3 linked regions of the Homo sapiens genome follow. The protein of the gene in region 1 purifies or fractionates together with the protein of each later gene. This does not show direct contact. Each region holds a gene or a part of one and is shown on either strand. Other genes may lie near its edges. The genes, in order: FGF17, NOL12 and ANKRD17.

The links.
Region 2: the proteins of FGF17 (region 1) and NOL12 purify together in Homo sapiens (co-immunoprecipitation; 2 studies listed by BioGRID and IntAct, with this or other methods). This does not show direct contact.
Region 3: the proteins of FGF17 (region 1) and ANKRD17 purify together in Homo sapiens (co-immunoprecipitation; 2 studies listed by BioGRID and IntAct, with this or other methods). This does not show direct contact.

The regions. Positions count from the first base shown.
Region 1 is NC_000008.11:22,036,166-22,047,437, reverse strand, and holds the start of FGF17 (fibroblast growth factor 17 isoform 1 precursor), read right to left. Parts: upstream 4,619-11,272; 5' UTR 4,510-4,618; coding exon 4,475-4,509; intron 4,294-4,474; coding exon 4,257-4,293; intron 2,890-4,256; exon of another isoform or gene 1,466-2,889; coding exon of another isoform or gene 1,325-1,465; coding exon 1,147-1,324; intron 912-1,146; coding exon 805-911; intron 1-804. Other genes in the region: NPM2 (nucleoplasmin-2), read right to left, coding at 10,756-10,800, 10,912-10,945. UniProt on the Homo sapiens protein: Plays an important role in the regulation of embryonic development and as signaling molecule in the induction and patterning of the embryonic brain. Required for normal brain development.
Region 2 is NC_000022.11:37,687,249-37,695,959, reverse strand, and holds the end of NOL12 (nucleolar protein 12), read right to left. Parts: intron 8,051-8,711; coding exon 7,945-8,050; intron 7,649-7,944; coding exon 7,600-7,648; intron 7,111-7,599; coding exon 6,968-7,110; intron 5,264-6,967; coding exon 5,166-5,263; intron 4,787-5,165; coding exon 4,624-4,786; 3' UTR 2,486-4,623; downstream 1-2,485. UniProt on the Homo sapiens protein: Multifunctional RNA binding protein that plays a role in RNA metabolism and DNA maintenance. Participates in the resolution of DNA stress and the maintenance of genome integrity by localizing to sites of DNA insults.
Region 3 is NC_000004.12:73,071,856-73,082,934, reverse strand, and holds the end of ANKRD17 (ankyrin repeat domain-containing protein 17), read left to right. Parts: intron 1-4,044; coding exon 4,045-4,293; intron 4,294-5,401; coding exon 5,402-5,580; intron 5,581-5,830; coding exon 5,831-5,995; intron 5,996-6,644; coding exon 6,645-6,704; 3' UTR 6,705-9,559; downstream 9,560-11,079.

The sequences.
Region 1 (11,272 bases):
GGGAAGCTGGGATTGCCTGGTTTCAAACGAAGTGGAATTCTCCCACCCAGCAGGGCCCGGCCTACCGTGTGCTTTGGTCACAGGGGCAGCTGCTTAGTGTCTATCTTGCTAGCTGGAGCCCACTGGCCCCACTGAACTTGGGGGAGTTCCTGTCTTACATCTGTGCCCCACTTTCCACCCTCAACAGCTCTTAGTCCTCCACCCAGAGGCTGCAGTGTCAGGTAGATGCTAAGCTCTTACTGATGCCTGCTGGAGAAATACTCCTGACATCAGCCCCACAGATCCCAGTGGCTTGCCAGTCCCCTCAGAGGGCTAATAGAGTCCCGGGGACTCATTTAAATAGAGAAACCAGGCCGGGCTCCGTGGCTCACGCCTGTAATCCCAGCACTTTGGGAGGCTGAGGTGGGAGGATCGCTTTAGCCCGTGAGTTTGAGACCAGCCAGGGCAACATAGTGAGGCCCTATCTCTACAAAAAAAAAAAAAAAAATTAGCTGGGCATGGTGGCATGCACCTATAGTGCCAGCTACTACTTCAGAGGCTGAGGCGAGAGGATTGCTTGAGCCCAGGAGTACAAAGCTGCAGTGGGCTATGATTGTGCCACTGCACTCCAGCCTAGGTAGCAGAGCAAGACCCGGACTCTAAAATAAAAACCAGAGAGTGGCCCAGTGGGTGGGCTGAGAGTAGGATGGGAAGTCTTTACACAGGAGGGTGTGTGGCTCAGAGGAGAGAGGGGAGCATGATGCCCTATATGTCCCCACCCCAGTAGGGCTGATTCTCTGTTACTTCCCAGTCTCCCAGCCTCACCTTCCCGATGAGCTTGCCCCTCTTGTTCATACAGATGTACTTCTCACTCTCAGCCCCTTTGATGCGAACCCGGCTGCCAAACGTGTCCGTCTCCACTATGAGCTTGGCTGTGGTGGGGGAGGGGAGAAAGACCTCCGTCCATCGGGGCTGCCGGCCTATGGCTACAGCAGGGGACCACCCAGCCACACTGACCTCCAGACTCAGGCGAAGGGGTTGGGGACACTCAGGCCCTTGGGGCCCTCAGCCCTGACACAGGATCTGGGGATGGACCAGGAGGTGAGGCAGGGTGGAAGTGAGGCAGAGTGGAGGTGTGGGTGCCCTGGGGGGAGGGCCAACTCTCACCAAACTTGTTGCCGTCCTCGGCGGTGGCGGAGATGCGACGCCCGGTGACCTGCACGTGCTTGCCACTGGTCCTGCTGTAGAGTTGGTACTCGCGGATCTGCCGCCTGCTCAGCTGGTCGGTCATGGCGCCCTGGTCCCTCACGTACTGGTTAAAATTAGGAGACGGGTGATTCTCCCCCTTTGCGGTTACCAAGGGAAAAATAGTGTCAATTTGCTTTGGGTGACACCACCACTGGTCCATCCAAGGGAGAGGGGTGAGGAGGTGAATATAGTGGGGACAGGCCACTTGTCCTGCAGAGTGAAGTGGGCATATGGCCATAGCCTTCCCAGGCCCCTGGGTGAGCCGGTCATAACCTCTTTGCTTTGCGTCTACCTTACAGAAGGGACTGGGGTCTGCCCAGGCTGGGGGACACTTATTGACAGAGCACAGCCCTGGAATCAGGACTCTGGGAGCTGGAAGGAGCCCTCAGGGTTCTATCCCGTCCTCGTATTCTATGAAGGAGGTGCACGGGGCACACAGCTCATTAGGGACAGAACCCCTGTCCCTACCTCTTAGACCAGAGCCTGTCATCTCCCCCAGAACTCCAAGGACATGCTCCATTAGCCAGGACAACCAGATTCCTTCCTCATCCTCCCCACTGGCCTTGAAAGACCCCTTGCCCAGCACACGGGCACAGAGCAGATGGTGCTGCGAGTTAGGGTCACCAGAGAGCATGTGGGGGACTCTGAAAGCTCCTGCAGGGTCCCATGAGCATTTCTTTGAAGCACTAACTGTGGAATCCTGAGCTCATACCCATCTTCTTCCCGGCCTTGCCCCCTGGTGCTCAGGGCCCTTCCAGTGTTCCTCCCTCCTCTATGGGCTGGAGCTGGGGCTGGGGCTGGGGCTGGGCACTATGGGACAGCAGGCAGGCAAGGTGCCTCCTTAGCGGAGGGAGGCAGAGGCAGTACCAAGAGGACAGGCACTATCAGCGGTGGCCCAATGGCTGCCCCTGGCAGGCAGCTCCTTAGCCACAATGTAACAGAGGCTCCTGGCCAGTTGGTGGGATGCGCCCGCCCACCTGCTTCCCCTTTGGGTTGGGGGAGAGGAACCATTTCCCCCCACGCACTGTGCAAAGCCAGGAGGAGTACCGCCTCCCAGCTAGGTCTCTCGTTACCCATCTGTAAGGCTGAGTGGGAGAGACTGAGTACTTCTTCCCCTCCATCCTGCAAGGTGCGACCCGGGCTAGGTTTCCTGGCTCCTGGCAACAGCCTCAGCTCTAGCATGAGAATGTACCTTTTTTGCTGGTTTTGTCTCCACCTGGATGCCGCTGCCTGTGCTGGGACAGCTTTTCTCAGCCCCTGCCCCAAATCCCTAATTCCACCTTTATCCCAGGCCCAACCTCAGCCATCTGGACAGAGCTAGACCCAGATTAGCATCTGTTAGGGGCTACTCTCTCCTAGGGAGGGGGTGGGAAATATCACCTTTGAGGCAGGGGGAGTGAGGGAGCAGCTCTCAGAGCTGGACATTTAACCTGCGCGGGGTTAACACTTACTGTGCACCGTTGCTCATTTCCAATTGCACCTCCCCATAGAGCAGCCTCTGCCTAGCCTCTGCAAGACCTGCCCCTCGCCCCACCCTGGAGCATTTGGGGTGGGGGACCTGCCCAGCCTGCCCCACGCTGGCCTCCCTTCCAGGGGGTGGGGTCCTGCCTATCCCAGCCCCGCCTCCTGGCCCAGGTTCAGGCCCTCCGCCCCTCTTGGCCGACGGCCTCCTCTGGCAGTCTGTTCCAGGTCAGGAGCAGAAAGCGCCCCCCCGAAGCCCCCTCCTTTCCTCGTCCCCCTTCAAGCTTTTCACAAAAGCAGCCCCACGCCCCCCCACAGCCCACAACCCACAAGTCCCTCTCCCCGCGGGACCTAGCCTGTCCCTTTCATGTTCCCGCTGCGGGAGGACCTCCCCTTCCACCACTGCAGACAGCTGCTTGTCAGACAGCCCCTCAAGCATGGCTGTGGTCCGGCCTGCTGGCCCCCCCTCCCAGGGGGGTGAGGGGGCACTTCAAGGGGGAAAGGACCGCTTTGCCACCTTCCCTGAGTCCTGAATGGGGCCTCAGCCAGGCCATAAACGCCCGGCCAGCCGCACCATTGTGCTAGTTCCCCTCCAGAACAGGTTGGGCCCACCCCCAGCCCCCTCCCAGCCAGGCTGGGGGCTTTCTTCTGGCTCCCCCTGGATGTGTGAAGCAAAAGGCCTGGAACGGGGCTGGAGCAAAAGGGGGAAGGAAGGGGGGGGGAATTGTCTCTCCCTCTCCCACCCCCCCACTGCTTCAAAGGCTGCCCCTTTCCCTCTCCCAGAGAAAAGGCATTTACCTTCAAAAAAAGTCCCCACTGGATATGAAGAGAAGCGGGCCTCTGGCCTGGGAAAGCCAAGCGATCTCTCCCCAGAGCGGTTCTGGACCAGTGCATTTTAATAGCTGCACTTTTATGGAGGATCACAAAAAAGGGAGCAAGCCTCGCACTGGGGGCTGAGACTTGGGGGTGGGAGGTGTGCATGGAGGGAGGTGGGGGGCCGACTTGGGGTGGGGGGAGTGTGGAGAAGCGAACCCTGCATCCCGTCCCAAACAAACCTCTTTGGGCTTGACCTCTGTGCCCTCTAGGTGAGGAGTCACCTCACCCTGGCCAGGCATTCTGGACATGCTCACGAGACCCCCACCCCAGGCATCCATATTGATGGGAGTGGGGTGGCGAGAAGGACATACAAGTGGTCTTGCATCAAAACCTGTCCTTTCAGGTACTGGCAAACCCAAGCCTCACCTGAGCCATCACCTCCACCTGCTTCCAACCGCTCCAGGCTCCATCCCTCAAGTCTGGGGGAACCCGATGGAGAGGGAGGAAGAGGAGCAGAGACCCAGGGGAAGTGGGGAGGGTCCTCAGAGGGAGGACAGAGACAAAACCTCAGTCAGCCCCCTTCCCTGCCCACCCGGTCAAAGGCTCACTCCCCTCCAAACCTCAGTGCCTCCTGGACCCAGGGAGAGGCCAGACTCTGCCTCTGTCCACCTGAAAGGAGCCGGTCCCTTGCACCCGCCCTGGTCAGGTAGGGTGGAAAAATTGGGGGAAAGCCGGTGGGAATGCCCGCCTACCTGAGTTTGACAGCAGAGAATCAGCAGCTGTAAGCACCTGTGTGGGGAGAGGAGGTAAGCCCAGGTGTGGGTGCCAGCTGCAAGCCTAGGGTGCACCCAGGCCCCCGCCCCCGCCCTGCCAGCCCCGTGCACGCACGCGTGGGAGTCCCGGGAAGAGGAGGGCTGCCCTGAGGCTGGAAATGGCAACGAAACTCCAGTGGGAGAGGTAGCACACTTACAGAGTGAGGTTGGGCAGCAGGCGGGCGGCTCCCATCGCTGGAGAGGTTCCTCAGGCGGTTGCCCCCCTGCCCCCAAGCTCAGGAGCAGATGTGGGAAGTCCCCAGGGGTAGAGTCCCAGAGAAGCCAAGGTCTCTCCGAGCCACAGGTTTTCAGGGGGGCGAGGAGGAGAGAAAGGGGAGGAGGAGGAGAGAAAAGAGGGAGGAGGAGGGGGAGGAGGAGGGCGTAATTGGGAGACTGAGGTATGAGGTGTCCACCTTCCTGGCCAGTGAGGCTGCAAAGCAGATGCGGGTGGGGGCGTGCGCGCTGTGCCCTCTGGGCTGCCAGTCTCTCCTGGGCCACCCAGTGCAGGGATGGAGCGGTGGGGGCCTTCTGAAGGAGGTGGCCCTGCTGTCTCCTGCTCTATTCCTGACCCTCACAGACTGGCCAAACTCGACGCAGACAAACTCGATGTGTGGCAGGTCAGGGAGGGGGAGCCCTTCCAGGTCTGCGTCTCCTGCACTCAGGTCTGGCGCCCCACCTCCCCAAGGGTGAGCCGCAGGTGTCAAGTGGGGCTGGGGTCTCTGGTTCTGGCTCTGGAGTGGAAATTCCCAGAAGCAGCCTTAAAAGGAGCCGCCTCCCTCCAGGGGGCAGGGGTGGGCTTGGCTTGGAGCAGCTGATTGCCCGGGAAGGAGGGGTTAAGGCTGTCCTGATCGGCAGCAAATACTGGGCGCAACAGGTTGGGGGTCAGAGGTGGGTTGGCAGGTACAGATGGAGATCTAGGAAGAATCCCAATGGAGAGTTGCAAAAGCTAGCCTGAGACAGACACTTGGAGAAGAGCTGGGTGTCCTGGCCTAAGCCCCTTTTCCTTGGGCCTCTGTAGTTCCATCTGAGAAATGAGGACAGTAATGCCTCAGGGTGTTGGGGGGTCAAGTGTGAAATCAGCACATAGCAGACTTCAAGATGTCTGTGTTCTGAGACCCAGCTCCACTCACCATTCTGCATCCCCTTCCTTCCAGTGCCTGTCCCTAGAGCCTCTCTGAGCTAGGAGCAGCTCGGAGTCCCCTCCCTGTGTCCCATGTCCCTGAGCAGCTGCCTGGGATGAAGTGCCTACCAGCCTCTTCCCATGACCTCCGGTCTCATACTGCTCGGTACAATGCCAGCGACTAGCCCATTTTGCAGATGAGGAAACTGAGGCACATTGGGAGGTAGTTTGCTCAGAATGGCCCAGCTAGTGAATGGAATAGCCAGAATGGAAAAGTCCATGCTTCTTCTGTTCTGCATGGATTGAGTTGCCACCCTGCAGATCCAGCCCCAAACCTGCTTCATTGTAGGGATACAGAAGCCTTCCTGGGTTTTCAGGATTAAAGGTGGAATCCGAGGTCCTGGAGACCGGTGAACAGAGAGCTCCATGCTGTTCCCTCCCTACAGAAAAGTGGATGACGGTGACTGCAGAAGATAGGAGGGCTTGGGGGTCTCTGAGGGAAGACCCAGTGTGAGCAAGCAGAGCTCAGGCCTCAGCTCTGGGCTCCCTGGAGTTCTCAGCGCCCCCAGGGTGGGAAGGGAAGGGGAAGTGGCGGATGTGGATTTATTTACCTAAAGAGATGACCAGGGGAGCGAAACTCTCACCTGTGGGTCCCTTCTCACCTTCCTGAGCTCCATCAATCCACAAAGTGGTCTGCCACCCCTGCCCCCATGCACTGACCAGTGCAGGCAGCTCCGGGGTCTCCTCTCCGCAGGCTCTTCCTCGGGAACCCAGCCCAGGAGTGGGTGCTGCCTGAGCTTGTGTGGGGAGGATGGGGCAAGCCCTGGCCTTGCTTACCTGGGGGAGTCCAGGGTTTTGGAATGCAACTCAAAGAATGTCAAACCTAGAAGGGGTCTTAGGGATTCATCATTTGTTCCAACTTCCTCATTCCTTGGATGAGAGCCAGAGAGGGCAAGGGACTCGCCCAAAGCCTCACAGCTAGCTGGTGGCATGGCTGGGACAAGGTACCAGGTGCCCGCGTGCCCACCTCTCTGCTTTCCCCCTGCGGATCCTTCAGGTCACTTCTGTTCCGCGTTCTTCCCATCATCTGCAGTCTGGGTTACACTCTGCCTCTTCTGGCAGCTCTGGCTCATTCCCTGAGAAACCTTCAACCTCACATCCACATCCTCACCACTCCCAGCCCCCAGGCAGGGCATTAAAGAGAGCACAGACACGTGGAGGGGACAGCTCAGGCCTTGGGTTGGTGGAGGTGTCAGCTGGGGGGCGAAAGGTGGGTAACGGTTCCAATTTATGCTGTCGGGACTCACTGGCCATGGGGACAGTGGGAGCCACTCAAGGCCTCTGAGCCCAAGCACCTGTTTCTATCCATGGGGACAGGGCCTGCCATCACTGGCCCAGCCCTCAGGCCAGCCTGGGTCTCCATGGTAACAGATGCCAGCAGTCAAGCTGGGCCTCGGGGCTTAGCCAGGGGGTTAGCTCTGGGCATGGCTGGATGGCCTGTGTCACAGGCAAGACAGCTGTGGCTCCTTGTCCCTTCCTGTTGGGCACCTGCAGGCCTGGCCTTCTAACTTGGTTTGCTCCTTTACGCCCATGGGGAAGCCAGTGGTGGGCCCCAAGTGGGGAGGCAGCATGGAGCCCTTGATTTTATCCCCGCCCCTTTGCCCTGGTCCTTATACGCTGTGTGACCTGTGGCAAGTCCCTTCACTTCTCTGGTTTCAGGGTCCCAGTTTATAAAAAGGAAATGGCTACCAGCAGGGATACTGTCAAAACCACCGCCATCCACGTCAGCTGAGATAAAGGACTCACAGAAACGCATCAAGTGCCACAAGAATGGGGGCAGGGGCCCTTTTTGTGGCTTAGCCTCAGTTGACCTAAACTGTCAGACTCTCTCCCTTGACTGGAGTGAGCTCGGGGAAAGGGGGAGGGAAGAAGGGTGGGGTTTATTAACATTCATTGCTGGGGGGGTGGGGTTCAGGAGGTGATAAGGGAACTGAGAAGTAGCCTGGGCTGCTGTGGTTAATCCTCACCCCATAGTGCCAAGTTCAACACCCCCCAGCTGGGGTCGTCTCACGCCTGCCTCTCCTAACAGCCCAGCTGGTGCAAACACAGAGCCCACCTGCAGGTCAGCCACTTGCCACCACCTGCTTGAGCCCAGCCCACCCTCTTCCTGCTGAAAAACAGAAGAGTTGGGGCAGGGGAAGGGCAAAGGGCAGAGGGCAAAGGGCACCCTAGCAATGAGGATGGACCCTCACCTTTGCAAATTTTTCTTTTTTGAGACGGAGTTTCATTCTTGTTGTTCAGGCTGGAGTGCAATGGCGCGATCTCAGCTCACTGCAACCTCTGCTTCCTGGGTTCAAATGATTCTCATGCCTTAGCCTCCCAAGTAGCTGGGATTACAGGTGCCCGCCACCACACCCAGCTAATTTTGTATTTTTAGTAGAGACGGGGTTTCTCCGTGTTGGTCAGGCTGGTCTCAAACTCCCGACCTCAAGTGATCTGCCCACCTTGGCCTCCCAAAGTGCTGGGATTATAGGCATGAGCCACTGCATCCGGCCTCCACCTTTGCAATTTATTTCCTACTGCCTGCTTGCAAATCAAAATCAAGTGATCACTGGTTTATCTGTTGCGCGCCTTCTTGTGCTTGGGGCCAAATATGCGCTTGGCTGTAGAAACGCCTAGCTGTCCCTTGAGGACTCCCATTACATGGTTGACTGACTTCTAACTCCTGCTCTCAGTTTACACGACTTCATAAACTGTGCACCGGCTCATGCCTCCCTCCCATCAGCAGAGTGGTCAAAATCCAGGGCTCTGGGGTGGGACTCCCTGGCTCCTCTGCCAGCCGTGTCACCTTGGGGCAACTTGTCTAACCTCTCTGTGCCACACTTTCCTCATCTGGGAAATGGGGCTGGGCCAGGTGTGGTGGCTCACACCTGTAATCCCAGCACTTTGGGAGGCCGATAGAAGGATAGTGTGAGGTCAGGAGTTTGAGACTAGCCTGGGCCACATAGTGAGATCCCCATCTCTACAAAAATGTTAAAAAAAAATGAGCTGGGTATAGTGGTGCATGCCTGTAGTCCCAGCTACTTGAGGGGGCTGAAGCAGGAGGATAGGCGGAGCCCAGAGTTCGAGGCTGCAGTAAGCCATGATCGTGCCACTACACTCCAACCTGGCTGACAGAGTGTGACCCAGTATCTAAAAAAAAAATTAAAAAGAGAAAGAAATGGAGCCAGTCACAATCCCCTTAAGGCACGGTTATGAGGGTTGAAGGAGTGGGTCGTGGGTATTAGAAGCTGTCACTGCAGCCGATCCCCCTTCAAGTGGGGCTCTGCCTCGGACCCTTTGCATGCTCTGTTCCTGTTCCCAGGAACGTCCTCTGCCAGCTCCTAATGAAGCCCATTGAGCCCTTCTTGTCCGTTGCCTCCTCCAGGAGACCTTCTCACCAAACTGCTTCCTCCTGCCCCTCAAGTTCACCTGTTCCACTCCCTTCAAAGCACCAGACAGTAACTGAAATTGTGTTGGGTTTTGTTTCCACTAGACTGTAAGTGACTTGAAGGTGAGGAATTGGGTTACCCCGGGTCACTGTAGATGAAACCAAGTTCAAAAAGCACCAGCTGCTCACATGGAGCAGTCCCCCTTGTCACTCTCTGGGTGACCTGAAGTTAGTGGTTTGTCCCTTTGTTGGAGGGTGGGACTCTGGGTGACCTAAAGTTAGTGGCTTGTCTGTTGGAGGGCAGGACAGCACCCACATCTGTCTCATGGGTGTAGGAAACATGCAGGGAGAATGCCACCCTGGGTGGGTGCAGTGGCTGACGTCTGTAATCCCAGCATTTTGGGAGGCTGAGGCAGGAGGATCTCTTGAGCCCAGGAGTTGGAGACTGGCCTGGGCAACTTAACAAGACCCCCCATCTCTACAAAAAATTTTAAAATTTGTTTTGGTGTGGTGGCTCGTGCCTGTAGTTCCAGCACTTTGGGAGGTTGAGGTGGGAGGATTGCTTGAGTCCAGGAGGTCGAGGCTGCCGTGAGCTAAGACTGTGCCACTGCCCTCCAGCCTCGGTGACAGAGTGAGACCCGGTCTCTAAAAAAAATAAAAATTAAAAAAAAAATGAATACAACCCTGCCCTCTGCTACCTCTGTCTCTGGTCTCAAAAGAAGCTATAGCTGGACAGGAGGCCCCAGCCTGGTTGTTGACTTTCCTAGGCAGGTGTTCAAAGAGCTCCGACCTCCTGGGCCCCATACCTGGGGGTACTAAGCAGGACAGCAGGACCAGCTCCCCACTGGTTCACTTCGGGCCTGACCCCAGAGGGTGCTGGGGAGGGGCAGGGAGAAGCCAGCAGAGGCGCTGCATGGATAACCCAGAGTGTAGGGCTCATCTGTGTGTCCGCCTGTTCTAGGAACTGCGCCAGGGTCACCCACAGGTGAACAGCCCTCCAGAGTCCCCTCTGCACACCAGGGAGAGGGTGGGGGTCCCCCACCCCATTTTCCAGTCCTCTCTTGGCCTCGCCCCTATGCTTGACTGAGGCCTACTCGATAGCATGTGGGGCTTGGCGCCTCTGTAAAGCTCACCCTGTCTACTCCACCTCAAAGGTTTTTTTGAAGGTGCGGGCCTCTGGCTCCTGCCTGACACAGATCTTCACATGTGGGAGGTCCCTATAAGATGAGCTGGCCCCTAACGGAAGCAAGCAGGGAGAGCGGATGTCCCTGAGTTCCCTATAGATGCTCTGCACACAGTAGCTGCCTGACAGGAATAAGGTCAGGAGAAGACCCTGGGGGCTGGCCCCCTAGGGCGAGGCCCCTTCTGGTAGCTTGAGCAGCCGTAGCCCTTGGGTGCCTATAAACCTAGCTCTGCCCAGAGGGAGGGTGCAGGCTGGAAATCCACCTGACACACAGCTCAGCAGAAGGCAGACTCTAGGCTCTTCCCTCGCCACTGGGGGAGAATTGGGGGTGCCGAGGACGAGGGACACAGCAGGCTCAGGCCGCGGGGGCTGGGTGCAGGGAGGCAGGTATGACCTCAGGGCCCGGGTGCACCGGTTCAAGGCTGCCCTCTGCCGGGCACTGGGGCTGGTGCAGCGGACAAGGAGGCTGGCTCCAGGGAAGAGAAGGAAAGTCCTGACCAGGCAACTTTATTGTGACCCCGAGGTGGGGCTCTTCACTGGGGGCCTCCTGAAAGTGGAGAGTTGGGGGTGAGGGGCTCTCATGTTGCCCCCGCAACACCCCTGTTGCATTCAGACACAGGTGGAGGGGCTGGACAGGGGCACCCTGTGCCTGCAGCACAGCCCAGGGAAGGCCCACTTTGCACCGTGCCCCCCAAGGCGTGGCTCCTCATTTCTTGAATCCTGGCTTCTTGGCTCTGGCTGTGGCTTTGGCCTGTGGAGGGAAGGCAGGGCTCCAGGGTCCCGTTCCCTTCTCCATACCAGGCAGCCCCCTCCAGAGAATACTCGCCTGTCCCAAGGGCCAAAGCCCTCTGGTCCTACTCACCTTTTTCACAGGGCTCTTGTCTCTAACGCTGGCTCTGCAACAGGGTGGAGCGGAGCAGGAGTGGGATTGGGGTCAGGGAGAGAGCTCAGCTCCAGACCAGCGGCGTGGCCCTCCCAGTGCCCACCCTGGAAAGCAAGCCTGGCTGCTCCTCCTGGGGACCACTCGGACTCTTTAAACAAAGGGATGTGTGTGCGTGTGCATGCATACGCATATGTGTTTTCCTTAGGCTTCCATCTTCATTTAGTTATCACAAATGTCTTTTGTTTTGTTTTGTTTTTGAGATGGAGTCTGGTTCTGTTGCCCAGGCTGGAGTGCAGTGACACTATCACAGCTCACTGCAGCCTCGACCTCCTGGGCTCGA
Region 2 (8,711 bases), on another chromosome or scaffold:
AGGTCAGGTGGAGAAAGGAGGAAGGCAGAGAAGGCTTCTCCTTGGAGGTGGCTCAAAGGTGAGGAGATCGAGAAAGGCTGAGAACAGCCTGCAAACCTCTGAAGGTGGCTGGGGGAGGCCAATGCTAGCTCAGAACAAGGCGGGCATTTCTAGCAGTCCTCACAAGGGAGCAGGCAGTGAGCTCTCCAAGCTCAGGAGGAACTGAAGCCCCTCACCAGAGCCACCTGCAAGCCAAAGGAAGGTCAATGGCTCAAACCTGGGGGCGTCAAGGTCGTCAGCACCACTGGGACCTTGGAAAGGATGGACGCTGAGGCTTATATGACCCCAGAACACCTGCCCCCACAGTTCCTCACCTCACCCCCCTGGGGAGAGCTCAGGCCACCCCAAAACAGATCGTACCAAAAGAAGTTTTATTTTAATGGGCTGAGCCCAGCCTCAGGTAACTATGGCCACAGCTCATCATGTACTAGCACAGGGCCTGACCTTGGTGTGAAAACCGAGGATGGATAAATGTCTGCTGTGACTTTAGCTCCACACAGATGGATCCCCTCATGACAGCCCTTTATATATTTGGCTTCTGTGAAATAATCTGCTGATTATACCCCAACACCCATTCTCTCATTTTTTTTTTTTTTTTTTTTTTGAGACAGATTCTCGCTCAGTTGCCCAGGCTGGAGTGCAGTGGCGCGATCTCTGCTCACTGCAAGCTCCGCCTCCCGGGTTCATGCCATTCTCCTGCCTCAGCCTCCCAAGTAGCTGGGACTACAGGTGCCCGCCACCACGCCCAACTAATTTTTTGTATTTTTAGTAGAGACGGGGTTTCACCGTGTTAGCCAGGACGGTCTTGATCTCCTGACCTCGTGATCTGCCCGCCTTGGCCTCCCAAAATGCTGGGATTACAGGTGTGAGCCACTGCGCCTGGCCTCATTCTCTCATTTTTGAGATGGAGTCTTGCTGTTGTCACCCAGGCCGGAGTGCAGTGGTGTGATCTTGGCCCACTGCAACCTCTGGCCCTCGGGTTCAAGTGATTCTCATCTCAGCCTCCCAAGTAGCTGGGATTACAGGCACCTGCCATCACACCTGGCTAATTTTTATATTTTTAGTAGAGATCGGGTTTCGCCACGTTGGCCAGGCTGGTCTCAAACACCTGATCTCAGGTGATTGGCCCACCTCAGCCTCCCAAAGTGCTGGGATTACAGGCACGAACCACTGTGCCAGGCCCCATTCTCTCCTTTCTAACACAATCCCCAATTCTCATCTGAGCACTTGGTTTCCCAGAATAGAAGAGTTCCTGGCCGGGCGGGGTGGCTCATGCCTGTAATCCCAGCACTTTGGGAGGCCACGGTGGGTGGATCACCTGAGGTCAAGAGTTCGAGACCAGCCTGACCAACGTGGCAAAATCCCATCTCTACTAAAAACACAAAAATTAGTCAGGCGTGGTGGCAGGTGCCTATAGTCCCAGCTACTGGGGAGGCTGAGGCAGGAGAGTTGCTTGAATCCGGGGAGCAGAGGTTGCAGTGAGCCGAGATTGTACCATTGCACTCCAGCCTGGATGATGAGCAATACTACATCTCAAAAAATAAATAAATAGAAGAGTTCCTAGCCTGTCTTGTAGCTAAGAGCTCCCTTGCCTCTGCCTCATGCTTTGCCTCCTGCCTGGCCAACAGGACATGCCAAGTGCCAATTTTTCTTTTTTTTTTTTTTTGAGACGGAGTTTCACACTTGTTGCCAAGGCTGGAGGGCAATGGCATGATCTCGGCTCACCGCAACCTCCACCTCCCAGGTTCAAGCAATTCTCCTGGCTCAGCCTCTCGAGTAGCTGGGATTACAGGCATGCGCCACCACACCCAGCTAATTTTGTATTTTTAGTAGAGACAGGGGTTTCTCCATGTTGGTCAGGCTGGTCTCGAACTCCCGACCTCAGGTGATCCACCCGCCTTGGCCTCCCAAAGCGCTGGGATTACAGGCGTGAGCCACCATACCTGGCCCTAAATGTTTTCAAAAGGAGGGGCATGTTCTTCATCCCCTTTTCTGTCCTGCTGGCTGAAATGCAGACATAATGGCTGCAGCTCAAGCAGCCACCTTGTGCTGTGAGGCAGGGGCCATGTGTTGAAAATGGCACACAACATAGAACACAGCATAGAGTTAGAAGCCCGGCATCCCAGCCTCCAGCCTTCCCAGCTCCAGGCTGGGAACCTCCCATCTTTGGGATGGGAACTCTTTTACACAAGCCAGTTGTTTTTCAATTTTGTTTTAGAGTATATGCAGCTAAACTTAACTCTTCCTCATACATCTCTCAGAGGCCCAACTCTGGAAAGCGACAGGAGGAAGGAGCCCAGGTGCCTCCACAGCAATGGTGAGGGGCTCCTGGAGAAAAGACAAGTTCTCCAGAGGGCTCTGAATCCACCACCCTGATCCTAGAATTGGTCAAATCACTGTGACTCAACTTCCCTGGTCTGCTGGAAGAAATGAAGGCACACATGGAAAGGAGTGGCTGAGAATTTAATACTGGTAAACACTATAAATTGTAAATGTAAGTTGTAAATGACCTTGTCACTGGAGAGGGGAGAAGGAACTGGAGTCAGACGTCCCAGCAGAAACAGCAGCGGCAACATGCGGTAGGCACACCTGGAGAGCAACAGGCACTTTGGTAAGTGGTTCATGCACATGGTCTTATTTTAGTCTCGGGGCAGCCCTAAGAGGTAGGTATCTGGTGTCACCTTACACATGACGAGACAAACCAGAGAGGTCAGCACAGCAGAAGCTCATGCAGCGACCAAGCAGCAGAGCCTGGATTCAAACCCGAGCCCTGCTGTGTGCAAGAACCCCTGGGACTCAGCTGTTCCTGCTCACAGCAGGCTGAGCACCAGAGCCACCTGGAGGGCCCATAATAGGCACCACTGTGCCCAGGCACGAGGCAGCCAAGTGGCACATGCCACCCGGGGAAGACAACTTGGTGGCAGGGAGAGCAGGTGGGCGGAGCCAAGAAGCCAGGCCAAGGCGCTCAGCACAATCCCTGAGGGGAACTCACCATACCCGGGTGCAGCCCTCAGACTCCCACCAGCCTTCATCAGTGGGTTTTGATGGTGACATGGGAGAGGGCCTGCCCACTCCCAGGTACAGCATAACTGAGGCACAGTCACTAAGCCTGCCCCACTGTAAGGCCTGGCTGTTGGCTGTGGAGAGAGGACAGCCCTGCAGACCCTGGCTCACTGCTCACCCCCACTCCAGGAGCTCCCACATCAGGGCGGGTAGAGCCCGCAGTCCTGTCGCAGATGCCCCTCACCGCACTGTCCTGTCATCCTGACTCCATAGTCCACGGGCGTCAGCAAGCCCTGGGAACACAGTTCACTCCCCTTTGTGGTCCTAGTGTTTAGGACCCAACACAGCTCCTCTAACCAAGGCACAACCTGAAATTCTCTCCTGCCCAGGACTGACAAGCTGGGACAAGGAAGGGACAGGGTTTCCATCAACTCATCCATCTGGAAGGAGTGTGAAGACATGGCCCCTTGTGGAGTTCTAGCTGGCACCCGCAGGGTCTACTCTGGTGGGGGCTACTTTTGTACGAGTCAAGATGCAACTGCTTTATTTTTTAGTTTTTTTTTGAGACAAGGTCACAACGTTGCCCAGGCTGGAGTGCAATGGCGTGATCTCGGCTCACTGCAGCCTCCGCCTCCAGGGTTCAAGTGATTCTTCCACCTCAGCCTCCCAAGTAGCTGGGATTACACGCGTGTGCCACCACACCTGGCTAATTTTTGCATTTTTAGTAGAGACAGGGTTTCACCATGTTGGCCAGGCTGGTCTCGAGCTCCCGACCTTAAGTGATCTGCCCGCCTGGGCCTCCCAAAGTGCTGGGATTACAGGCGTGAGCCACCAAGCCCGGCTGCAACTGCTTTAGAAAGAATTAATTAATCCTTCCACGTTGGGACCCACCTGGGAGCTGCTGGAAGCCTGGGGACGCTGCCCCAGTGTGGTGATGGGGGATGACCTGGCACTCAACTGCTTCCACCACTTCAGTGTCAGTTGAGGAGACTCCTGGGGCCGAGGACAAGGGACAGGCACAGAGGCTCCTCGGTGAAGGGCATGGGGGGCACTGCTCCCCCACTGGCCTCAGGAGCCTGCTTTTCAGAGCAGCAGGTGGGCTCTGGATTCTAGCAACGGACACACTGATCCTTAACCCTGGTTAGGATCTTAACACAGGGAGAACTGTACTTTATTGCAGCCACAGGGCTAACTGCTGGAGACAGACCCATGGGCCCTGGCCATTTCCACCACCCCAAAAACCTGCCCTTGTGCGTGGTATCAAGGACAAACAAATCACAAGCGCACAAATCTGATGAGTGCCAGGTGGGGTGCACATTTGGGAAGATGCCCCCACGTGGCTCTGAAGGCTCTTCCTGGGGGAGGCCTGCTCTCAGCTGCCTGCTCCTTCGGGAATTCAAACCCCAGGCAAAGGCAGCTGACCCCAGGCAAAGGCAGCTGGCCCCAGGCCAGAGAGGTCCTGGCTTCCCAACCTTGAGCTGTGCAGTCATTACCTAGGTGCAGGCTGGGCTACAGGGACAGCCAAGCTGAGCAAGGACAGGTCCCCGCAGCCTAGACTGGGGCACCGCTTCGTTCTCGGTCTCACTCCCCGCTGTGCCGTGCTTTGCCTGTGAGACGGCGGCGCTGGGCCTTGCTGGTACGAGGGGCCCTTGGGGGCTTTTTGGAGTCCTGGGCCCGTCGGGGATGTTTCCTCTTGACCTTTTTGCGGCTGTGTGCATGTAGTGATGCTGTGAGGGAGGAGATCCTAGGGGAGGGCAGAAAGCCTCAGTTTAAGATTGCATTGTGGGGTGACTCACCACCTGGCTCACGGAGGGGATGTCAGGACAGGTTGCGAATGCCAGGACCGCCAAGTTCATGCCAGAGTTGGCCTGCTCTACCTCCAGAGTGCCTGCCAGCAACTCAGCTCAGAGACACAGGCCCTTCACCCAGGCACGAAAAGCACTGGAGGTCAGACACTATCAGGGGTGGGTGGGACAGGACGGGGCAATGAGGAGAGGCAGAGGATCACTGGACAGGCAGAGGGCTGCTCCGGGCCCTACACCTGCTCCACACCACCCTAAGGGCCAGGTCACTACTGCCAGCCAGGAGGGGTGGGACCGGGGAGGCAGCAGGCCAAGACTCACCGCTGAGAGAGCAGGGGGTCTCTGGACTTCCTGGGCAAGGCTTTGGTTGGTTTCTCCGTGGATGACGCCTCCTCCTCAGACCTGTCTCCAGCCCCTCCCTAAAGAGGCACAAGACAATGACTTACATGGAGCAGTAGCTGGGGGGACCTGGGCTGGGCACCCCGAGCCACCATGGCTCTGGCAAGTGGTGGCGCGCCCTGCTGCATCACAGGCCTGGGTTGGGACTAGAGAAGGCTTCTGATGGAAGAAGTCTATCTGCCCTAAAGCAAGGATTACACAGGGGAAGGTCTGTTTCCAAACCCTTTCCTGCCCCTAGAAGCTTCCAGGACATACTTAAACATTCAGGAATGAAAATCCTAGCAAAACGGGGACAAGACTTGTCTTTGTATCAGAACTTGCAGAATAGTGAGCATAAAATGAAAGACCGGTGTGAGATCAGTATGGTTTTGTTTTGTTTTGTTTTTTGAGATGGAGTCTCGCTCTGTCACCCAGGCTGGAGTGCAGTGGCACAATCGTGGCTCACTGCAACCTGCGCCTCCTGAGTTCAAGCAATTCTCCTGCCTCAGCCTCCCGAGTAGCTGGGATTACAGGTGCACGCCACCATGCCTGGCTAAGTTTTTTTTGAGACGGAGTTTTGCTCTTTTTGCCCAGGCTGGAGTGCAATGGCACGATCTCGGCTCACCACAACCTCCACCTCCCAGGTTCAAGCTATTCTCCTGCTTCAGCCTCCCGAGTAGCTGGGATTACAGGCATGTCCCACCACACCCAGCTAATTTTGTATTTTTAGTAGAGACAGGGTTTCTCCACGTTGGTCAGTCTGGTCTCGAACTCCCAACCTCAGGTGATTCGCCCGCCTCGGCCTCCCAAAGTGCTGGGATTACAGGCATGAGCCACTGCGCCTGGCCCCCTGGCTAATTTTTTTACTTTTAATAGAGACGGGGTTTCACCATGTTGGCCAGGCTGGTCTCAAACTCCTGACCCCAGGTGATAACGCCCGCCTTGGCCTCCCAAAATGCCGGGATTACAGGCGTGAGCCACCATGCCTGGCCCTGAGATCAGTATGGATGTGATAGGGGAGTGGCTCCAGGACTTAAGAACACAGTAACCCACACAAGGAAATGTGTTTTATATCGTAATTGTGTGCATATATGTCCATAAATCCTTAGGCACACCCAGATACAACTCCAGTGGAAACAGCTGTCTCATGAAACAATATTTAACATGACACTTTCGGATATTTTCAATTATATTTTTTTTTTATGCTGATTGCAACCTACTCATGATTCACAACCCACAGGTTGAAAACCCACTTAGTGCACACAGACGTGCCAGGGCTGCGAATCGCACAAAGGGAACGATCACAACAAACGGCTACCTTTTGTGAAGCACTTATGACAGGGCTGGGCACTGTGCCAGGTGACTCACATGGATTAACCACTTTCACCCTCATACCAATCCCACAAGGCAGGTGCCACCATCAGCAACCCCCAGTTCACTGATGGAGAAAGGGAAGCAGGCAAGGTGAAGGAGCCTGCCCAAGCTCCTCAGCCGCTCAGCAGTGGGGCTGGTCTTTGCAGCACCCCGGAAGCAGGGAATGAAGGGTCCAAAGGGAAGGAGCCCCAGCAGTGGGGTACCCACAACATGGGCCAGCACTGAGCAACCCCGACAAGCCAGTCTGCCCCCACGCCCCTTCTTCCCAGGGCTGGCAGTGGGATACCCATGACATGGGCCAGCACTGAGCAACCCTGACAAGCTGGTCTGCCCCCACGCCCCTTCCTCCCAGGGCTGAGACTGGGACCCACCTCAGGTGGGGTCAGCCCGAGCAGCCGGGCCCCCGAGAGGTCCAGGTCACTGATGGTGGTCACGGTGACTGTGTGGTTGGGGTGGTCATACTGCACCGACTCCGTCTTTGCTGTCACCAACCGGTCCAGCTCATCTGCCTCCTCTGTGGGGGTGGACACAGACCTGGTCTCAGTCACGGGAACGAGTGACCAGGCTCCAGCCTCCCTCCCGCCCTGGAGTGCAGTGCCCCCTCTACTCTGTGGACGTGGAGCGCATCCACAAGGTCACTGGCTGTAGAGCCTGGTCTGTGGATGAATGTTGTGAATGATCCCGTTTCCTTCATGCTCTAGCTGGTCCCCATGTCAGACAAACCCTCTGTGACAGCTACTGCTGTCCCTCCCCTCCACCCCTAGTCCTTTCCATCCTTAAAAACTGGGCTCTCTTCTCAGGCTTGGTTAACCATGGGGTTTGGGACTCCTTCTCCTGGTCTCTGTTCCACTTGCACTTAGAGGTGCTTAGGACCACCCCTGGCCCCAGGGTACCCCCCAAGATCCCTAGGGCCAAGGAGGTCAGCTTCTATCCCTTCCACCCACCAAGGGTATAAACCAGGCCCATCAGCTGTTCTCCAGGTCAGGCCAAGCATGCCACTTACCCAGAGCCTCTTCTCTCTCTGCCAGCATCTTCAAGTATTCCTGGTGGCGCTGAAACCACACAGGCAGGGAACACAGTGAGTATGGCCTCTCAGTCCAACCTCAGGCTGGGGTATTAATCACCCCCAGGGTGAGGGAGACCATGATCCATACTGCAAGATCAGGAGGAGACTCCATCTTCCATCACTCCCAGACCCGGGCCCACAGAGTCTCCACCTGTATAAACTATTCCCCAGTCCTGCCCACACACACATCGCCCCATGCCAGCAGCTGCCTCTATTAGGGAAATCCAAGGCTGCAAGTGCCCTAAGAATCAAAGACCTCCCTCCCACCTTCCCCCTGCGTACCTCCTCCCGAAGCTTCCTCTGCTCCTCTTTCAGCCGCTGCTTAATCTCCTCAATGGCTGCCTTCTTTCGCTCGACCTTCCGCTTGTGGAAGCCTGTCAGGTACTCCCTACAGGAAGGAAGCCGGCAGAGACAGGAGAGTCATTATACAAGGAGAGAAGGGCTCGCTCTAGGAGAAAAATGGCTAATGCCGCGCTCACTATGTGCTAGGCACCATTCCAAAAAAGTGTAAGTATTAGCTCATTTAACCTTCACAACAATGGCCAGGCATGGTGGCTCACGCCTGTAATCCCAGTACTTTGGAAGGTCGAGGTGGGAAGATCACATGACGCCAGGAGTTCAAGACCAGCCTGGCAAACATGGTGAAACTCCGTGTCTACTAAAAACACAAAAATTAGCTGGGCTTGGTGGCGCATGCCTGCAGTCCCAGCTACTTGGGAGGCTGAGCGGGGAGAATTGCTTGAACCTGGGAGGCGGAGGTTGCAGTGAGCCGAGATCATGCCACTGCACTCCAGCCTGGACGACACAGACTCCATCTCAAAAACAAACAAAAAACCCTCACAATAACCTGTGCGGTGGGTATCAATCTCCATTTTACAGATGGGAACGTTGAGTCACAGAGTCTAGGTTACTTGCCCAAGGTTAGAGAAAGGATACATTTAGGAAAATAAGGGAGATACTGCCTCTTTCCACTCAATACTCTCCAGGGATCTCAGGTTCAGGCAACAGGGCCAGGCTGTGGGGCGGGTGGGGGGGGGGGCCACACACAG
Region 3 (11,079 bases), on another chromosome or scaffold:
CAGTGTTTAAATTCAGCAAACTTTACATTTTATATTATTATCTAATATATGGTGCATATTTACATTTCATCAGTTATCTCAATAACTTTATTATTTTCTCTCATCCAAGATTCTAATTAGGACTGCAAGTTACACTTAATTCCCATATCTCTTTAGTCTCAAATAATCTAGAACTGTTCTCTGAGTCTTTCTTTAACTTTCAAAGAAAGATTCATTTTATGAAGACTACAAGCCAGTTGTTTGCTAGAATGCCTTTTATTTTTATTTCCTACTATTTCTTCCTGATTAAATTCAGGGTATGTTTAATAAACACTGAACTAAACTGTGAGAAATGTGCAGTGTAATTTTACTGTAGGAGCACTTTTTGTTCTTCTCCTTTCTTTTCATGTAATTTTACTGTAGAAGCACTTTTTGTTCTCTCCTCTCTCCTCTCCTTTTCTTCTCACGAGTTCTGTCTCTGTCACCCAGGCTGGAATGCAGCAGTGTGTGACCATAGCTTACTGCAGCCTCAATCAAACTCCTAGGCTCAAGCAGTCCTCTTGCCTCAGCCTCCCAAGTAGCTGGGACTACAGGCACTTGCCATAGCACCCAGCTAATGTTTTTATTTTATTTTTATGTATTTATTTTTTGTAAGATGAGGTCTTACCATGTTGCCCAGACTGGACTTGAACTCCTGATCTCCAGAGATCCTCCCACTTTAGCCTCCCAAAATGCAGAGATGCTGAGATTACAGATGTGAGCCACCACGCTTGGCCCCCCTTTTTTTTTTTTTTTTTTTAAATAAAAAGATAATGTATCTCTCTGTTGCCCAGGCTGGAATGTAGTGGCACAATCTTGGCTCACTGTAACCTCCACCTTCTGGGCTCAAGCAATCTTCCTGCCTCAGCTTCTCAAGTAGCTGGGACTACAGGTGTGCACCACCATGCTTGGCTAATTTGTTAAATTTTTTTTTGTAGAGATGAGGTTTTACCACGTTGCCCAGCCTGATCTCAAACTCCTGGCCTCAAGTGATCTGCCCACCTGGGCCTCCCAAAGTGTTGGGATTGCAGGTGTGAGCCACCACACCCAGTGGCCCCACTTTTTGAATTTGTAAATCACATTGCTCTTTCAATTTTAACTCAGGACTCTGTTATCATTTCTAAACTGTGGTGAAGTTACCGTGGTATCAGTGAAACTTAAATCCTTAGGCCACTTCATTTTATGGGGTACTTCCAAGTGCTGTACATGATTTTTTTATTTGTAATTTTTCATTCTTCTAAAAAAGGTTCCCAAAATTTTGTAAGTTTAAGGCCCCACAAAACCTAGATCTGCCCCATCCTCTGAAACCTGTTTCTCTAATATATAAGCTGATGTTTTTAAATAACATGGCTCTGAATTAAATTTTGCTTTTTTTCTAATTGAAGTAATTATAATAATTAGAGATGTGAAAATTATTTTAGTTAGGTTCTTTTCATGAAAAGGAATATAGGCCCATCCAGGGACTCTCATGGAAAATGATGTTTATATAAGGCTATGCAGAACCATTTTCCAAACCGTCCAGGACTTAGGGATAGCTATTCTCTCTCTCTCTCTCTCTTAGAGGATTTGTGGTCTCTCACTCATGGTCTGTTTCTTGTCAGTTTCTTGCATTCTGCTCTCTTTACACCTAAACTTCTTCATAATCTTACCTTGTATATGCACATCAGTGGTTCAACTTCATAATTAATTAAACCAGTTAACCCTTTAATTCCCCATTCTTTGATGAGGAATGTGATTGGCTCAGCTCATATGTTCAAGTCAGACCATTTCAGTCAGATTACTGACTAGCCTAAAATAAAACTTGGATGGGTGCCTATCCTTAATCCAATAGTTGTGCAGAGAGGGAGCAGAAAACAGGGTCATCTGATAAAAACTATGACTAGAGGGGTGGCAGAATCTGTGCAGAGAGTAAACTTCTTAAATGGCGCAGCTCAGCGGGCAAGCCTAGTAATTCTGTTTATTAAAATAGAATGTGTAGGAGGCTGAGGTGGGAGGATGGCTTGAGGCCAGGAGTTTGAGGCTGCAGTGCACTGTGATTGTGCCTGTGAATAGTCACTGTACTTCAGTGTGGGCATCATAGTGAGACCGTCTCATAAAAAACAAAACAATGTGGAAGGTTGTTGTTATTTTGCTCTACTTTGGTTCTAGAAGGATACAGGAAATAAAAGGGAAACCAGAGTGAACACAGAGGTTAAGGTAGGCTCCCAGGGATGAACCTAGGGGAAAGCAGGATTCATTTGTTTATCCTTCTTTCCTTCCTGCCTGCCTGCCCTGACTATGTCTTGATGTTAGTTGTTCTGGGTTGATTTTTCCTAGAGGTTTAGGTGTGGCCTTTCAATATGTAGGTTTTTAAAAAACAAGCTTTTGTTATTTATCTTTGTGTTTACATTTACATGTCTGTGTATTCCTTGTAGTTTTTGTCTGTTTTCTACTGCATGTATAATTGCAGAATTTGGTTTTATTTGGTCTTTAGCTAAAATATTCTTTTACTTCTAACACTTTCCTGAGTTTTGTCATATTGTTTCCGTTTTACTAATTCTGAATTATGCTGTTCCTTCATATCATTTTCTTTTCGTTCATTTTTGAATTTTAGGTTATAGCTTTTTTTCTGGAGTGCTTTTATTGTCAACAGGAATGCTATAGGTCTTTCTCTTTTATCTTATATAATAGGCTTATTTGGAATTCAACTGCAGTTCTGTTGAATCTGCAGGTAACAGTTTTGATTTTTAAGCTTCAGACTCCTTTATTATTTATACCATTTTAGTTTAAATGTGCTTTAATATTTAAGCTTTTTTGGGAGGGGGAGGGGGGATGGAGTCATCTTGCTCTGTCACCCAGGCTGGAGTGCAGTGACACGATCTCGGCTCACTGCATCCTCCGCCTCCCGGGTTCAAGTGATTCGTCTGCCTCAGCCTCCTGAGTAGCTGGGACTACAGGCGCGTGCCACCACGCCCGGCTAATTTTTGTATTTTTAGTAGAGACAGGGTATCACCATATTGGCCCCTCGAACTCCTGATCCCATGATCCGCCCGCCTTGGCCTCCCAAAGTGCTGTGATTACAGGTGTGTGCCACCGCGCCCGGCCAATATTTAAGCTTTTCACATAAAATATAATTTTGGTTATTTTTGTTTTTTCTCAATAATGTATAGAGATTGAATCACTAATGAATAGTCTCAAATCAAGAAATCCACCTTGTTTGCATAAGTAAAAAAGATTCTCATTACCAAAAGCATGTTCTGTGAAGTACTCACAAGATAAAATAAAACAGACTTAGGCAATGATCCTCTTATTGGTATTTTATCAGTATATATAATGTTCTATAAACTTCAGTTCTAATTTGAAGAAACTTTTTTTTTTTAAACTGGACATGATGGCTCATCCCAGTAGTCCCAGCTGTTCAGGAGGTTGGGGTGGGAGGATCGCTTGAGCCCAAGAGTTTGAGGCTGCAGTGAGTTATGATCGAGCCTCTGCACTCTAGCCTGGACAATGGAGCAAGACTCTGTCTCCAAAAATACATAAATAAAATAAATAAAAAATGAATAAATAACAAAGAAACGTATTTCTTTTTCCTAGGCTAGGTTTTCCAAATTTATTAGATAGCTGAATCTCTTTTTCATCATAACACAAAGAGCAAGTATTCCCAGGGAATACAGTTTGGAGATTGCCACTACAGGCAGTGATTCTTACCCATCTCCATTCTGTTGTTGTTGGTTTGTTTTTTAATTTAAATGTCTTATTGCTTGCTACATTTTACTTAATGTCAAGGGTTAATTCATTTGAATATTATTTAATTTAATGGTTTATTACCTTTGTAGTTGAACATTTTGCAGCATTGACATCATATTCTACCTTGAAGTCATGGAACTTTAGCCAAATTTTAATATGCATCATTTTTAAGTATTATTTTTACACTTTGTTTTTCTGAGAATATATATTTAAAACATCTCCTGGTTTTAAGATTTGGTTTTATAAAATTACATGTTCTATAGATGACCTGTATTTTATTTCAAAATATCTCTTCTCTAGATTCTTCTGCACAGTCAGTATCCTCGGGAGTTCGTGCACCATCTCCTGCCCCATCATCAGTACCGTTAGGGTCAGAAAAGCCCAGCAATGTGTCTCAGGACAGGAAAGTTCCAGTCCCTATTGGGACTGAACGTTCTGCACGTATCAGGCAAACTGGAACGTCAGCTCCATCTGTTATTGGGAGCAATTTGTCTACATCAGTAGGACATAGTGGCATCTGGTCCTTTGAAGGGATTGGTGGCAATCAAGGTAGGATATTCTGTCCTGCTCTCTAGAAATTAACTTAATGCATTTAACTATAATGTAAACAGTATTTAACTTTAATAGTCATTTCCTTTTTTTTTTTCTTTTTTTGAGATGGAGTTTCACTTGTTGCTCAGGCTGGAGTGCAATGGGGTGATCTTGGTTCACTGCAACCTCCACCTCCCCGGTTCAAGCGATTCTCCTGCCACAGCCTCCCAAGTAGCTGGGATTACAGGCATGCGCCACCATGCCCAGCTAATTTTTTTTTTTTGAGACGGAGTCTCGCTCTGTAACCCAGGCCGGACTGCAGCGGCACAATCTCTGCTCACTGCAAGCTCCGCCTCCCGGGTTCATGCCATTCTCCTGCCTCATCCTCCCAAGTAGCTGAGACTACAGGCGCCCGCCACCACGCCCGGCTAATTTTTGTATTTTTAGTAGAGACGGGGTTTCACCGTGTTAGCCAGGATGGTCACGATCTCCTGACCTTGTGATCCGCCCGCCTCGGTCTCCCAAAGTGCTGGGATTACAGGCGTGAGCCACTGTGCCCCGCCTGTATTTTTAGTAGAGACAGGGTTTCACCATGTTGATCAGGCTGGTATCAAACTCCTGACTTCAAGTGACTCACCCACCTCAGCCTCCCAAAGTGCTGGCATTACAGGCATGAGCCACCACGCCCAGCCTCGTAGTCATTTCTAAAAGATCTGTATTCCTATTTTTTTTGTTATGTGAATATTTAATCACTTCTTTATGAGCTCTGTCCCCATGTGACCTTTCTCATTACATGTATTTATTACTGCTTTCAGAAAATATCTAATGCAAGCATGTTCTTTTCTTCCTTTCATCATATTAAGGACATAATAATATTTCCTTTCAGTCCCTTTAGGTTGTACTTAGGTTTTTTTCTTTTGTTTTATAACACCAAGTTTTTAGATTATTTCATTAAGCTATTATGTCACTACTTACAAACCATGGAAATATTGCTGTAAATATATAAAAGTAGGTCATTATATTGAAATAATTTACGGTTCAATGTGGAAAATATTAGAAAAACAAAATATTTGATTTTGATTTTAAATATTATCTATTTTTGTTTTGCCTCTTTGTTTGCCCTCAGACAAAGTAGACTGGTGTAACCCTGGGATGGGAAATCCTATGATCCACAGACCGATGTCTGACCCAGGAGTATTTTCACAACATCAAGCAATGGAGCGAGATAGTACAGGAATTGTAACTCCTTCTGGTACATTCCATCAGCATGTTCCTGCAGGCTACATGGACTTTCCTAAAGTTGGGGTAAAGTCCTGATTTTGTACTAGTTATTTAAGGGAGGATTTTCTGAGAAAATGTTTTGAATATAGTAGGCATATGTATAATCTAATGTTAAAATAAGTTATATAATGGGTAATAATTTTTAGATTTCTTAGATAAGTTACACATTCCCAGGATGAGGTGAACTTTCAAATATCAATTTTAAGGCTATTGATTATATTGGGAAAAATGAACAATGACTTGGATGTTAATGTGTGTGTTTTCCTTTTTTAAGGGTATGCCTTTTTCTGTGTATGGGAATGCAATGATTCCTCCAGTAGCACCTATCCCTGATGGTGCTGGAGGACCCATATTTAATGGCCCTCATGCTGCAGACCCTTCTTGGAACTCACTGATAAAGATGGTTTCCAGCTCCACGGAAAATAATGGCCCTCAAACGGTGAGGCTGATCATTCAGTGAATAAACAGTTGTTTTGTGTTTAAGAAATGCAAAGACAAATAGGATTCAGGTAACTCATGATAGCAAGAGAGTTTGGTGAATATGGGCAGTTGAGGAAATCTAATATAGCTGCAATATAGCAGAGGGCTGTGGGCAGTGGTACCAAAGGCAGGTTTGGGGCTAAAATTATGAAAGGTATTGTATATTCTACTGGGTAGCAGATAATAAATGAAAGATTTTAAGTTGCAAAGTGACTGTCATATGATTTTATACATTAAAGTTTACTAGTGGTGTGAAAAGACCATCTAAAGGTTATTTATTAAAGGTACTATAAATAACTCTGAGAATTCACATAAATGGTTGTATATTTTAGTTTAGTGTATGTTTAATATCTTTGATTTATTTTTCTTCCACAACCGTGAATCTATAAATGCTCAGGTAATGATTTTTTTTTTAAAGGTTGTAAATCAGATTCTGTTTGAGGGATAAGAGGTAGGAAAATAATAGAAAAAAGGTTTTTATCATTTTTTTCCATTAGTTCCTAGTATATTGCAAATTGAAGAGTACCTCCTTAGTTTTTTAAAAGTTTTATTTTAATAAAATATATGCTAGATATATATTTTGTAAAATGCATGCTCTATATTCATAGGTGTGGACTGGACCCTGGGCACCTCACATGAACAGTGTGCATATGAACCAGCTTGGCTGATGAGGATCAGCTTGTTAGCCTGCAGATTCCTTTTCATTTGGAGGAAATCACAAGTGGCCGAAAAAAAAAATTATGCTCCCAAATCATTCTACTGATGTGCTTGACTGAAGTGTGTAGGCTTTTTGCAGAAGATCTTACTAACTGACCTATTTTCTGTGAACATTTGTGACTGCCCATTCCCCATCATCATCCGTTTTACCTTAGTTAGCATTTTTCTTATCATTTTTCTTTTTTTCTTTCCCTCTTCCCCTTTGGACATAACTTTCTGTTGAAGCTGTTCTTTGGCTGGTTGGTTTTAGTACTGTAAACTGCTTCTGAGCAAACACGGAAATTTAGCAAAATTATGTAAACTTGATCCTGAAGTTTTAGAATGGCAAATAAATGTACAATTGTTTACATAACAGAAAAGGCTAAGCAGAAAGTAAATTTCAATATGTCAGTATAGAGGCTCTACTTTATGTAGACTTAAATTAATGTGAGATATGTACCTTCATATTCAGAAATCTGGATGTTTCCTTCATACATTAAACTATTAATAAGCATAACTTTTCTACTGGTGTAATTTAAGTATAAAGTAAAATAATGGGCATTATCATTGGATGTTTCCCCACATTGGCTTTTAAAATACCCATCTTGCTTTCTTTTTGGTTTATTTGTAGCAAGGCACATATAGAAGAAGAAATTTCTGGCTTTTCCATGTTGTTTTATTACCTTTTCTCACTTTTAAAACTAATACAGACTTATCTCCTCACTCCTTTTTCTCTCCTTACCTTTACCACTAATACCAGTAAAATTATCTTTCTGATAGTGAAAAGGTTCTGTCAAGATTTTCACTGTAATGGCTGCTACAGAGATGGACCATCTTCATCATCACCAGTGGTTTCTTCTAATTATAAAATGTTTAAACTTTCTGAGAATTTAAAAAGCCACCACTGTTCCCAGTCAGCATATACAAGCTCTTAATATTCTGTTTATTAAATAATTCAATGTACTATTTTATATTGGATGATATTGATTCTTAACATTGGCTTTTCAGTCATCAACAGTCAACATAAAAATTTCAATTTTCAGTAATTTAGTGGAAAATATCTTATTTCTTTTTTCAATTTTAAAGGCTTCCTGCTTTTTTACCCTTGTATATTATCAGTGAAAAGGATCAACAGTTAATTTGAGCCAAGTAATAAAAGAAATTCTGCATTTGTCACGAAGACAATTTATGGTAGACAGATAAATACACAGATTACAGTGTAAAGTCTCCATTTAACCTGTTTATAAAAGATACAAGGCCACACTAAACTACTCAGTGGGATTTATATATTCCATCCACTTGAAACAATAAACAGTAATGTATCCAAGAAGATTATGTGTCCTACCCTGTCTCATGGAAAAATTAATTATATGGTTGAAATGTAAAAGAAAGTAAGCATAAAAATCGAGTAATGTATATATCAATTTGTCTTCTTTTTTTTTAATTAGACATAAAATTTCACACTGGTAAAACATAAAAACTAACTAAAATTCATATAAATCACCTAGAGTTGATGATATTAACATGGTTCCTTGGTTGTCAAGTAAATCAAATGATTTCTTCCATCTGAGTAAAGAGTAAAGCCTGAGTAAAGAGTAAAAAGATGACTTCTCAAACATATCCAGAAATTTGTAAACAGTACACTCATATCTTTTAGTTTAAGAAGTGGTCTTAAAATATATAAATTTGTTTTTCCACCTATGTTTAATATGCCCAAATTTAAAGGGAGAGCTAAAAGACAGCCTACAAATAAATATAGCTATGAAATAAAATTATAGCACTTTACTAAAAAAGGGATGTAATAATGTTATTTAACGAAGTATTTTATATATGACTTGCCACTATTCTATACATAAAATTTTTTTTCTTAATTCTTTCCTGTGTTAACTAGGGTTATTTTCTATTTAAGGTAATCCTGCTGGAGAACAGATGCTATCCAATATTTATTACAACACATGAGTTGTGTTGTTTCACAATACTGAATTTCTTAGGTGAGGTATTTTATTTAAAAAGGAGGGGGAAAACTCCTATATTTTCTTGACTTCAAACCTGTGGGGCCAGGGGATATAGATTGAAATGCTCCGTATTTAGTCTTGGGGATCAGGCTTGTTTAGTACAATACCATGGTTTTAGAAGTCTGTACTAGGAACATTTTTAAAATACATTTTTTATATTTCAGATGTAATGCAGTGCACTTTTATTTGAACAATAAAAAAACCCATAACTTTTTGAGACCATGAAGGTCTTTTATTTTTTAATTTTGAAAATATGTGGTATGTGTATATGCAGACTACATCATTGTTTTAAGAAATGATTTAACTCTTGGACATTACACTTGGGTTAGTTCACACCTTAAATCCCCAAGTAGTTAATATCTCAATTATTGTATAATCAGTTTATACCATCCATTCCCAACAAAATTCCACATTTCATGCCTTTTCAACATACATTTCAACATAATCAACATATTTACAAACACTGACTTCACTGTTTATAAAGAAGAAATTTCCCCTCCTATTTCCCATTACTGAAAAGTCAAGTCATTTTTATTGATACATGAAAATTAATTTTTTTGTAAATGACTACGTATAGTCATTTTTCTCCTTTGGAAAAGGTAAATAGCTTATTAACTAATCCTGTCTTGTTCTTCACAAAAATAATAGTCCATCCGTGTTTTGACTCAAATAACCTAAATACACATTTTGTAAAAATTTTGTACCCTATATTACTTATTTTTAAAACAGTACAGTGTTAGACTAAACAGGAAAACTCAAAGTTATAAAATCTCTTCAGATCCTCTAGTTTATTAAATCTATTTTCATGTTGATGTTTTTCACAACACTTATTCCCACAGATCTGGCATTACAGAACATTTAAAGTGTACCAAAACATTGTTTTAATAACAGATTTTAAAATCAGGATTATTTCAAAATGATTAAAATAGCAAAGAACAACCAAGTCACTGCTTTTAATCACTATAAGCAGAAATTCAGTATTCCATTCTCAGTATATTTTACTTACGTAAATGAATCTATGCAGATATCTTACACTTTTAATGTTTGCTGTCCTTGACACTAAATTCCGAATGTTCCTTAATGTCTTTGGAAATACATATACTATTGATAAATGCTTGCTTAAGTCACAGCATTTGATTAACTCAGGTGACTGGAATTTAAGATGGGAGCATTATCAGTGCTTTAATAAGTCTTAATGTGTTGCACACCTTGATTGCAAAAATATCACTTGAATTTTGGATAAGTGTAAAAGAAAATGTGCTACTGTGGCTTTGACAGAATACCTTTGTAACGTAACAAAGTACAAACCTAATATCTGTGGTGTAGGAGGTTGCATATTATACTTCTGCTTTTAAATGGATTCACACTTCTGAAAAACAAAAGCCAACTTTGCATTTTCAATGCTTGAAAACCAATAATAAGAAAGATGGCAAGGGGATGTCTTTCAATAAAGAGAAAAAAGCCAATTCTAAATTAGGTAGCTTTGGTTTTGAGAAGTAGTGCCTTAAGTAAGAAAGAAAAACTGAAATCTTAATCTGATTCTAAGGGATCACTAACAATTGCTCATGGAAATAGTTTATTTCTTAAAGGTGTTTTGTTGTTGTTTTATATATACCCTAGTAAGCTACAGTCATTTAGTTTGACAAACATTTCAGAAGGCATATTTGGGAAAAGAGAAGACTAAATGATTACATGATAATTACACCCCATATTCAAATTTTCAGCACTTAATTCAGGCTACTACAACAAAAATACTGTTGACTGAGGAGATTAACAGAATGTGTTTCTCACAGTTCTGAGAGCTACAATGTCTAACGTCAACATGCCAGCCTTTATGGTTTCTGTTGAGGGCCTTTTCTCTGGTTTGCAGATGGCTGTTTCCTTTTCAGTTTCTTTGTGTAGGGCAGAAAAAGGTCATCTTGCTTTTGTCTTTTCCAAGAGACAGGATCTCTGTCACCCAGGCTGGAGTGCAGTGGCATGATCATAGCTCACTACAACCTCAAACTCCTAGGTTCATGTGATCCTCCCCACTCAGCTTCCCAAAGCACAGGGATTTACAGGTGTAAACCACCATGCCCAGCCTTGTTTCTTCCTATGAGGGCACTTACCCAATTCAAGAGCTCTACCCTTAAGACGAATTACCTCCAAATACCATCACCTTGGGGTTTCAAAAAAGAATCTGGGGAGGACAAAAATATTCAGTCCATAGCAAGCTCCATTCCTGTGTTTGGCACCATGATGGTTAAGAATTACAGAGACTGCAGAAAGAAAATGTAATACGTAGTCTCTTCTTAAGGAATTTAAAGTTGAGAAATTAACTGACATAACACTA